Linked DNA regions of Homo sapiens: region 1 is linked to region 2. Evidence: fine-mapped expression QTL. A gene starts in region 2. The other region holds a variant in brackets. All regions are shown on one strand. Distances are between the middles of the regions.

Region 1 (5,377 bases), 40 kb before region 2:
ATCACTTCAATTGATGCCAGAAAAGCATTTGATAAAATTTAACATCCTTTCGTGATAAAAACTCTCAAGAAAGTAGACACGGAAGGAACACACCCCAACATGATGAAATCCATGTACAACAGACCCACAGCTGGTATCATACTGAATGGGGAAAAACTGAAAGCCTTTGCTCTAAGATCTGGAACACAGCAAGGATGTCCACTTTCACCACTATTCTTCAACATATTATTGTTAGTCCTAGCTAAACCACTTAGACAATAGAAAAAAATAAAGGGCATCCAAACTGGAAAAAGGGCATTCAAATTATCTTTGTTTGCAGATGATATAATCTTATATTTAGAAAAACCTGAAGACAGCTGGGCTTGGTAGCTCACGCCTATAATCCCAGCACTTTAGGAGGCCGAGGTGGGTGGATCACCTGAGGTCAGGAGTTCAAGACCAGCCTGGCCAACATGGCGAAACCCAATCTCTACTAAAAAAAAACCAAACATTAGCTGGGTATAGTTGCACATGCCTGTAGTCCCAGCTACTCGGGAGGCTGGGGCAAGAGAATCTCTTGAACCCAGGAGGTGGAGGTTGCAGTGAGCCAAGATCACACCACCACACTCCAGCCTGGATGACAGAGCAAGACTCTGTCTCAAAAAAAAAAACAACTTTGGCTGGGTGCAGTGGCTCAAGCCTGTAATCCCACCACTTTGGGAGGCTGAGCTGCACAGATGAAGAGGTCAAGAGATTGAGACCATCCTGACCAACGTGGTAAAACCTGTCTCTATTAAAAATACAAAAAAATAATTAGCCTGGCATGGTGGCAGACACCTGTAATCCCAGCTACTCGGGAGGTTGAGGCAGGAGAATCGCTTGAACCTGGGAGGCAGAGATGGTAGTGAGCTGAGATGGCACCGAGCTGAGATGGCACCATTGCACTCCAGCCTGGGCAACGAGAGCAAAACTCCATCTCAAAAAACAAAAAACAAAAAACAAAACAAAAAAAACAGAAAACCTAAAGACTTCATCAAGAAGCTATTAGAACTGATAAACAAATTCACTAAACTTGCAGGATACAAAATCAACATACAAAAATCAGTAGCATTTCTATATGCTTACAGCAAACAATCTGAAAAAAAAAAAGGAAAGTAATCCCATTTACAATAGCCACAAATAAAATAAAACACCTAGGAATAAACGAAAGAAATGAAAGATCTCTACAATGAAAACTATAAAACAGTAATGAAAGAAATGGAGGAGGACACACACCAAAAAAAATGGAAAGATATTCCATGTTCATGGATTGGAAGACACAATATTGTTAAAATGTCCATACTAACCAAAGCAATCTACCGATTCAATGCAATCTCTATAAAAATACCAGTGACATTCTTCACAGAAATAGAAGACTAATCCCAAAATTTGTGTGGAAACACAAAATACCCAGAATAGCTAACGCCATCCTGAGCATAAAGAACAAAACTGGAGGAATCACATTACCTGACTTCACATTATACTACAAAACTATAATAACCAAAACAGTGTGGTACTGGCATAAAAACAAACACATGGACCAGTGGAACAGAACATAGAACCCAGAAACAAATCCACCCACCTACAGTGAATTCATTTTTGACAAAGATCCCAAGAACATACATTGCATTTATTGAAGATAAATGGTACTGGGAAAACTGGATATCCATATGCAAAGAGTGAAACTAGACCCCTATCTCTCACCACATACAAAAATCAAATCAGAATGGATTAAAGACTTAAATCTAAGACCTCAGACTACGAAACTACTACAAGAAGACATTTGGGAAACTCTCCAGTTCATTAGTCTGGGCAAAAATTTATTAAGTAATACATCAAAAGCACAGGCAACCAAAGAAAAATGGACAAATGGGATCACATCAACCTAAAAAGCTTCTGCTCAGCAAAGGAAACAATCCACAAAGTGAAGACACAACTGACAGAATAAGAGAAAATATATACAACCCATCTTAGCTAAAGCAATTAGACAAGAGAAAGAAATAAAGGCATCCAAACTGGAAAAAAAAAAAAAAGAAGTCAAATTATCCTTGTTTGCAGATGATATAATCTGATATTTAAAAAAAACCTAAAGACGCCATCAAAAAGCTATTAGAACTGATAAACAAATTCACTAAATTTGCAGGATACAAAATCAACATACAAAAATCAGTAGCATTTCTAGATGGTACTGACAAGGGATTAATAACCAGAATATAAAAGGAGCTCAAACAACTCAATAGGAAAAAAATCAAATAATCTGAT[T/TTGTG]TGTGTGTGTGTGTGTGTGTGTGTGTGTGTGTATGTGTGTGTGTTTGAGATGGGGTCTTACTCTGTCACCCCAGGCCGGACTGCAGTGGCACGATCTCAGCTAACTGCAACCTCCGCCTCCTGGGTTCAAGTGATTCTCTTGCCTCAGCCTTCCAAGTAGCTGGGATTACAGGCATGCGCCACCATGCTCGGCTAATTTTTGTACTTTTAGTAGAGACAGGGTTTCCCCATGCTGGCCAGGTTGGTCTCGAACTCCTGACCTCAAGTGATCCGCCTGCCTCGGCCTCCCAAAGTGCTGGGATTAGAGACGTGAGCCACCACGCCCGGATTAATCTGATTTTAAAATGGGCAAAAGATCTGAATAGACATTTCTCAAAGAAGACATACACATGGCCAGCAGGTATATCAAAAAATGCTCAACATCACTAATCATCAGAGAAACACAAATTAAAACCACAGTGAGATATCATCTCACTCGAGTTAAAATGGCTTTTATCCTAATGAAAGGCAGTAATGAATGCTGCTGAGCATGTGGAGAAAAGGGAACCCTGTTACCCTGTTGGTGGGAATGTAAATCAGTACAATCACTATCGATAATAATATGAAGGTTTCTCAGAAAACTAAAACTAGAACTACTGTATGATCCAGCAATTCCTTTCCTTCCAAGTCAGGAAGTCAGTATATGTAAGAGACATCTGCTCTCCCATGTTTATTGCAGCACTATTCCTAATAGCCAAGATACGGAATCAACCTAAGTGTCCATCAACAGATGAGTGGATAAAGGAAATTTGGTACATACAAACAATGGAGAATTATCCACCATAAAAAAGAATGAGATCACCCGGCACAGTGGCTCACACCTATAATCCCAGCACTTTGGGAGGCCAAGGCAGGTGGATCACTTGAGGTCAGGAGTTCAAGACGAGCCTGGCCAACATGGTGAAACCCTGTCTCTACCAAAACTACAAAAATTAGCCAGGAATGGTGGCATGTACCTGTAATCCCAGCTACTCGGGAGGCTGAGGCACGAGAATCACTTGAACCTGGGAGGCGGAGGTTGCAGTGAGCCAAGATCGCGCCACTGTACTCCAGCCTGGGCAACAGAGTGAGACTCGGTCTCAAAAAAAAAAAAAAAAAAGGAATGAGATCCTGTCATTTGCAACAACATGGATGGAACTGGAGGACATGATGTTAAGTGAAATAAGCCAGTATAGAAAGACAAATTTCACATGTTCTCACTCATAGATGGGAATTTAAAATTTTTAACTGATGAACTCATAGAAATAGAGAGTAAAATGATGGTTACGATGATTACCACAGGCTGGAAAGTGTAGCGGGGACTGGGGGATAAGTAGATATGGTTAATGGGTACAAAAATACAGTTAAACAGTTAGATAAAATAGATAAAATCTAGTATTTGGTAGCAGAACAGGATGACTATTGTTGACGATAATTTATGGTATATTTTAAAATAACTGAGAGTGGAATTGGAATGTTCCTAACACAAAGAAATGACAAATGCTTGAAGTGAGGGATGCCCTAGTTACCCTGATTTTATCATTACACACTGTATGCCTGTATCAAAATATCACAGGTACCCCATAAATGCAAACCCATAAAAATTAAAAATTTTAAAAATATATAAACTAGTAAAAAAAAAAAAAGTGGATTGTTGGTACTAGCTTTCACCTGTTATAATGAAAGAATGTGAGCTTTTTTAAATTGTAAGACCTTCCTGTTTTTCTTTTTTTTTTTCTTCTGAGATGGAGTCTCGCTCTGTCACCCAGGCTGGAGTGCAGTGGCACGATCTCGGCTCACCACAACCTCTGCCTCTCAGGTTCGAGTGATTCTACCACCTCAGCCTCCCGAGTACTGGGACTACAGGTGTGCGCCACCAGGCACAGTTAACTTTTGTATTTTTTCTTTTTTTTCTTTTGAAATGGAGTCTCACTCTGTTACCCAGGCTGGAGTGCAGTGGCGCGATCCTGGGTCACTGCAACCTCTGCCTCCCGGTTTCCACGCCCAGCTAATTTCTGTATTTTTAGTAGAGATGGGGTTTCACCCTGTTGGCCAGGCTGGTCTCAAATTCCTGACCTCAGGTGATCCACCTGCCTCGGTCTCCCAAAGTGCTGGGATTACAGGCGTAAGCCACCACGCCTGGCCGTTCTTTCTGTTTTTAAAGAGAATGTGGCTATCTGAATTTTCATGTGAAATCTCCAACCCACAATTGTTTTAAGCACTTTGGGGCTCAAGGTGGATGTACTCTGCTGCCAGTGTATGATTTCCATCTTTTTACAAACTGGAGTGCAGTGGCTTAAACACAACACACTGCAGCCTCAACCTCCTGGGCTCAAGGGATCCTCCTGTCTCAGCTTCTGGTATAGCTGGGACCACAGGCACGCACTGTGTGCCTGGCTCATTTTTTAATTTTTTTCTAGAGGCAGGGTCTCACTTTGTTGCCCAAGCTGGTCTTGAACTCCTGGGCTCAAGTGATCCTCCTGCATCAGCCTCCCGAAGTGCTGGGATTACAGACGTGACCAACTGTACCCAGCTGGTTTTTGTCTTAATAGGACTTGTGGGGGCCAGGCGCGGTGGCTCTTGCCTGTAATCCCAGCACTTTGGGAAGCCAACGCGGGTGGATCACTTGAGGTCGGGAGTTCATGAGCAGACTGACCAACGTGGTGAAATTCCATCTCTACTAAAAATGCAAAATTAGCCGGACATGGTGGCATGGGGCGCCTGTAATCCCAGCTACTAGGGAGGCTGAGGCAGGAGAATCGCTTGAACCCAGGAGGTGGAGGTTGCAATTAGCTGAGATCACACCATTGCACTCCAGTCTAGGCAACAAGAGTGAAACTCCATCTCAAATAATAATAATAATAATAATAATAATAATAATAATAATGGGACTTGGGGGTTTGTGAAAAGGGGATAAAGAGAAGAAGGGGATTATGGAAGGGTGAATGAATTGTCTCCTAGAAATAGATGGCAGTGGGGGCTTCTGACCACCCCCAACTAGGAAGAGCGTCCCTGGGGCTGAGGAGAGAGAGGTCTAAGGAATCTTGAAGAGAGTGTGGGGGCTATGGAATGACCACCT
Region 2 (5,377 bases):
TGACAACCCATGATCCATCCACCAAATAGAAAACAATGTCCAAACACACAAAATATCAAGAGTATACATACAAATGGTGGGAGTGTAAATTAATACAGTCTGACAGTGTCTACTAAAGCTAAACACATACCTGCCCTACGACCAGCAATTCCACACTTGGGTCTATTTTGTTTTTGTTTTTGTTTTTCTTTGGGAGGGGGATCTATTTTCAGAAGAAATGAATACGTAAGTTTGTCCAAAGAAATGTACTAGAATATTCATAGTGAGAGACAGGACTAGCTGGATTTCCTAGGCCGACTAAGAATCCCTAAGCCAACTGGGAAGGTGACCGCATCCACCTTTAAACAAGGGGCTTGCCACTTAGGTCACACCCAACCAATCAGGTAGTAAAGAGAGCTCACTAAAATGCGAATTAGGCAAAAACAGAAGGTAAAGAAATAGCCAATCATCTAACGCCTGAGAGCACAGAGAGAGGGACAATGATCGGCGGGATATAACCCAGCACTGGAGCCCGCAAGGCAATCCCCTTTGGGTCTCCTCCCATTTTATGGGAGCTCTGTTTTCACTCTATTAAACCTTGCAACTGTACACTCTTCTGGTCTGTGTTTGTTATGGCTTGAGCTGAGCTTTCGCTCACTGTCCACCGCTGCTGTCTGCTGCCATGGCAGCTGTGGCAGACCTGCCGCTGACTTCCACCCCTCCGGATCCGGGTGTCCACTGCACTTCTGATCCAGCGAGGCGGCACCCATTGCCGCTCCCAATTGGGCTAGAGGCTCACCATTGTTCTTGCGCGGGCTAAGTGCCCGGGGTTCCTCCTAATCGAGCTGAATAGAGCTATAACACTCACCGCATGGCCCAAGATTCCATTCCTTGGAATCCGTGAGGCCAAGAACCCCAGGTCAGAGAACAAGAGACTTACTGCCATCTTGGAAGCGGCCCACCACCATCTTGGGAGCTCTAAGAACAAGGACCCCCAGTAACAATAGCACTATAACACCCCTAAACTGGAAAATATCCAGTCTGAGGTATAGGGCATAGTCATAAAATGGAAACCATCCAGAATGAAAATGAAAGAACTATTTCTACACACGGTATGCATGAATCTCACAAAAACAACATTAACTAAAAGAAACCAAACACAGTACACAGAGTACTGGTCTAGAGAGAAGGAGAATTCAAAACAAACAAAAGTAACCCAGCTGTTACAAGTCAGGGCGAGTCCAGCCAGGCACAGTGGCTCATGTCTGTAATCCCAGCACTTTGGAAGGCTGAAGTGGGAGGATCATCTGAGTCCAGGAGTTCGTGACCAGCCTGGGCAACACAGCGAAACCCTATCTCTACAAAAAACATTTTAAAATTAGCAAGGCGTGGTGGCACACGCCTGTAGTTCCAGGTGCTTGGGAAGCTGAGGTATAGGATTGCTTGAGTCTGGGAGGTTGAACCTGGAGTGAGTAGTGATCTCACCACTGCACTCCAGCCTGGGCAACAGAGCAAGAATCTCTTTCAAAAGATATATTTTTAAAGGCTACATGGGGTGGGTCATGCCTGTAATCCCAGTGCTTTCAGAGGCTGAGGAGAGAGGATAGCTTGAGGCCAGCAGTTGGAGACTCTAGTGAGCTATGATCGTGCCACTGCACTCCAGCCTGGGCGACAGAGACTCTAGCTCTTAAAAAAAAAAGAAAAAAACAGATGAATGATAACCTTTAGAAGGGATCGGGAGGCCGGATGTGGTGGCTCACGCCTATAATCCCAGCACTTTGGGAGGCCAAGGCAGGCAGATCACTTGAGGTCAGGAGTTTGTGACCGGCCTGGCCAACATGGTGAAACCCTGTCTCTACTAAAAATACAAATATTAGCCTGGGCAACAGAGTGAGACTCCGTCTCGGGGCGGGGAGTGGAGGGGGGAGAAGAAGGGATGGGGGAAAGGGGAGCACATGAGGCTTCTACTGTTTGGTTTTGCGATCTGGATTCAGGTTGTATGGGCATGTTCACTTTGTGTAATTTTGTCGAGCTGTAATGATTTGTGCTCTTCTCTTTATTTAACTTCAATAAAAGGTTTACTTAACAAAAATTGTAGCTGGTGTGAAGGGTAGCAGTGTTTCCCTGGGGCCAAGAGTACAGGCTTTGGGGACAGACAGACCTGGGTCCCAATCTATGCTTTGTCCCTTCGGCACATTGTTGACTGTGGCTGGTGGCTTCGTGGCTCTGAGCTTGTCTCCTTCTCTATAAATGAGGAAACATAATACTTGCGACGATGATGCCTGTAAAGCTTAAGCGCAGGACCTGGCATAGATCTGTAAGGCGGAAACCTGGGATACAGAACTAAGGTCTATGGATCTCCTGTGCTACCCAACTTCTGGGCACTCGCTGCCTCCTTTTCCCCAGCCCAGACGCGTGGGTTCTACTCGATTGGTTGCTCACTGCGGGCTCGGGGCTCCTCAATCCCGGGGTAAAGCCCAGTATGAAATGTCACCTTCAGGGGCAGCTCGGATCTTCCCACGCCCGCGCGGCGCACAATCTTTGGATCAGCGCCACGTGGAGACCTTACCCGCCCGTACGATCAATCCCTTCTGTGGAACCCAGCTCAAGGACCCTCCAGCCCAGACACTAGAAAGCGAAGAGCAGTTGGCCGCCAGACTGTCCGTGCCAGAGCTCTGCGAACTTACTCCGTTGAAAGAGCAACGGGGCTGCGCCACCTCCCGGAGAGAACCCCCAGCCCTCCACGGCAGGGCGAGATGGCGCCACCGCGTGATACTGCGCACGCCCACAGCTCCCGTCCCGCCCTCGCGCCTGCGGGTACGGACAGCGCATGAGCTTATGTTGAGGGCGGAGCCCAGACCAGCCCTTCGTCCTATCCTGCCCTTCCAGCACCTCTCAGCCGTAACTTAAACTACACTTCCCAGAAGCCTCCTCAGCCAGGGACTTCCGTTGTCGTCAGCGGAAGCGGTGACAGATCATCCCAGGCCACACAGAGGCCGGCTTGGTCACTATGGAGGAGATAGGCATCTTGGTGGAGAAGGCTCAGGTACAGTGGGGACTTGGGCTTTTTAGTCCGGGCCGGGCTCGCGGGGAGAGGGTGAAGCCAGACCTGAGTGGGGGGAGGAATGGCTTCCAGGACCCCGGCCCAGGTTGGGGTTATTTTAGAGGCCTCGGTGGAGAGCTTTGTGCCATTCGAAGGCCTGTCTGGGTGGCCGAGTGATGGTAGGAGGTAAGGCTCAGAAAGCGGGGCTGGGGGAGTGAGTGACGTTAGTGGGTCTTTGAGACGGATTGATTTCGAACCCTGGCCGGTAGTGCTTAGTGAGGTCGGTGGCCCGGCGTTGGGATTGGGTCAGGCGGTGAGTGATATATGGGATCCCGCCGTGCGGCCGAGTGATCCCCGGGTCTGGGCTGCGGGGCTGACTGATGTTCAGGGCTTTGCTGATGGGGGTAATGGGGCGGGTAGTTAAGTATTATCTGTGGCTTGCCTGAGTGATATTTAGGTCTAAGGTGAGTTAGGAGACTGTGACATAAGGGATCTTTGAGGGGAAACTGGGGAATGTTGGGACTCGTTGAAGGCGCAGTCACTTTAACAGCCTATCTAGGAGAGCCATGTGACATTAGGAACCTCTTGAAGGGGATTGGGTGGCATTTGGGTCTGATAAGGAGTTGATGTGACGTTTAGATCCTAGTTGGGGGTTGTGTGACACTGGGGACATGTTATGAGTGGTATATGATAACATAAGATCTGTTTGAGGGGCAAGTTGACATAAAGAGCTTGTTTAGGTGGCCAAAAGGTTTCCAGGATCTATTTAGAGGGTCTTAAGATATCAGGGGTCTGTTAGGGGCTAAGTGACATCAGGGTGAAGTGGGGAGGGGAACAAACATTAGTGAAGTTGGGAAGCTTTCATGAGAGGACTGTCTTCTTCCAATGTGAGTTATCCCCTTTCGTCTAGGATGAGATCCCAGCACTGTCCGTGTCCCGGCCCCAGACCGGCCTGTCCTTCCTGGGCCCTGAGCCTGAGGACCTGGAGGACCTGTACAGCCGCTACAAGGTACATTCGACCCCCAACCCAGACCTTGCACAGGACCTGACATCTCATACTCTTCCCCACTTTCCACCACTCTCTGGATCAGCAAGTCTGGAGCCATCCCCTTCTGTCCCCTCTCTGCTCGCAGAAGCTGCAGCAAGAGCTGGAGTTCCTGGAGGTGCAGGAGGAATACATCAAAGATGAGCAAAAGAACCTGAAAAAGGAATTTCTCCATGCCCAGGAGGAGGTGAAGCGAATCCAAAGCATCCCGCTGGTCATCGGACAATTTCTGGAGGCTGTGGATCAGAATACAGCCATCGTGGGCTCTACCACAGGTGTGCTAAGGACACCTCATTCATTCATCTGTCCACTTAACAACTATTTCCTACCATGTGCTAGGCAGCAGCAAACAAGGCAGGGCAGTGCAGTGCAATGTTCTTCAGAGTATTTTGACTGATCGAAAGGTAGAAATACATACATATATATATATATACACATATATATATGTATATCTATGTTTTTTTTGTTTGTTTGTTTTTTGTTTTGAGACAGAGTTTTGCTCTTGTCCAGGCTGGAGTGCAATGGCATGATCTCGGCTCACTGCAACCTCCACCTCCCAGGTTCACACGATTCTCCTGTCTCAGCCTCCCAAGTAGCTGGGATTACAGGCATGGACCACCAAGTCTGGCTAATTTTTGTATTATTAGTAGAGACAGGGTTTCACCATGTTGGCCAGTCTGGTCTTGAACTCCTGACCTCAGGCGATCCACCCGCCTCACCCTCCGAAAGTGTTGGGATTACAGGCCTGAGCCCCACTGCACCTGGCCAGAAATGTATTTTACATTGTGATTATCTGTATCTGTCTCTTACTTTTTAGATAGATGTGTAAAACATAAGTTTCACCATGAAATATTTAGCCTTACTAGGTGTGGTATATGCTGATGTTTTCTATCCTATTCTAGTCTGTTTTGCTTTAAACACAGTTCTGGTCATGACCTTCCAAATTGATTTCACAACTACTACTGGTTTGGGGCCTGCAGTTTGAAACGATGAGTAGGAGTGTTAAGAGATTGGGCTCTGAGGCCAGGCATGGTGCCTCACACGTATAATCCCAGTACTTTGGGAGACTCAGGTGGGCAGATCACTTGAGGCCAGAAGTTTGAGACCAGGCTGGGCAACATGGCAAAACCCCGTCTCTACTGAAAATATAAAAATTAGCTGGGTGTGGTGGCACACACTTGCCATCCCAGCTACGCAGGTGGTTGAGGCACAGGATCTGTTGAACCCAGGAGGTGGAGGTTGCAGTGAGCCGAGATCGTGACACTGTACTACAGCCTGGGTGACAGAGCAACACTCTGTCTAAAAAAAAA

The links.
Region 1: its variant is fine-mapped to the expression of PSMC4 in whole blood (INTERVAL, PIP 0.96).

What each region holds. Positions count from the first base shown.
Region 1 is chr19:39,928,676-39,934,052 of GRCh38, forward strand. The region is part of intron 1 of FCGBP (Fc gamma binding protein); the gene reads right to left. Among named protein-coding and RNA genes, the nearest start is that of FCGBP, 3.3 kb to the right of the region's middle. The variant T/TTGTG (reference allele first, on the strand shown) is at 2,281.
Region 2 is chr19:39,968,214-39,973,590 of GRCh38, forward strand. PSMC4 (proteasome 26S subunit, ATPase 4) reads left to right here and starts at 2,952. Exons shown (of 11, transcript NM_006503.4): 1 at 2,952-3,025; 2 at 3,933-4,031; 3 at 4,156-4,342. The coding sequence starts at 2,990. It overlaps LOC124904720 (a long non-coding RNA gene), which reads right to left and starts at 2,758. Exons shown (of 3, transcript XR_007067260.1): 1 at 2,667-2,758; 2 at 2,141-2,223. RefSeq lists enhancers at 2,272-2,321, 2,822-3,211, 3,236-3,915.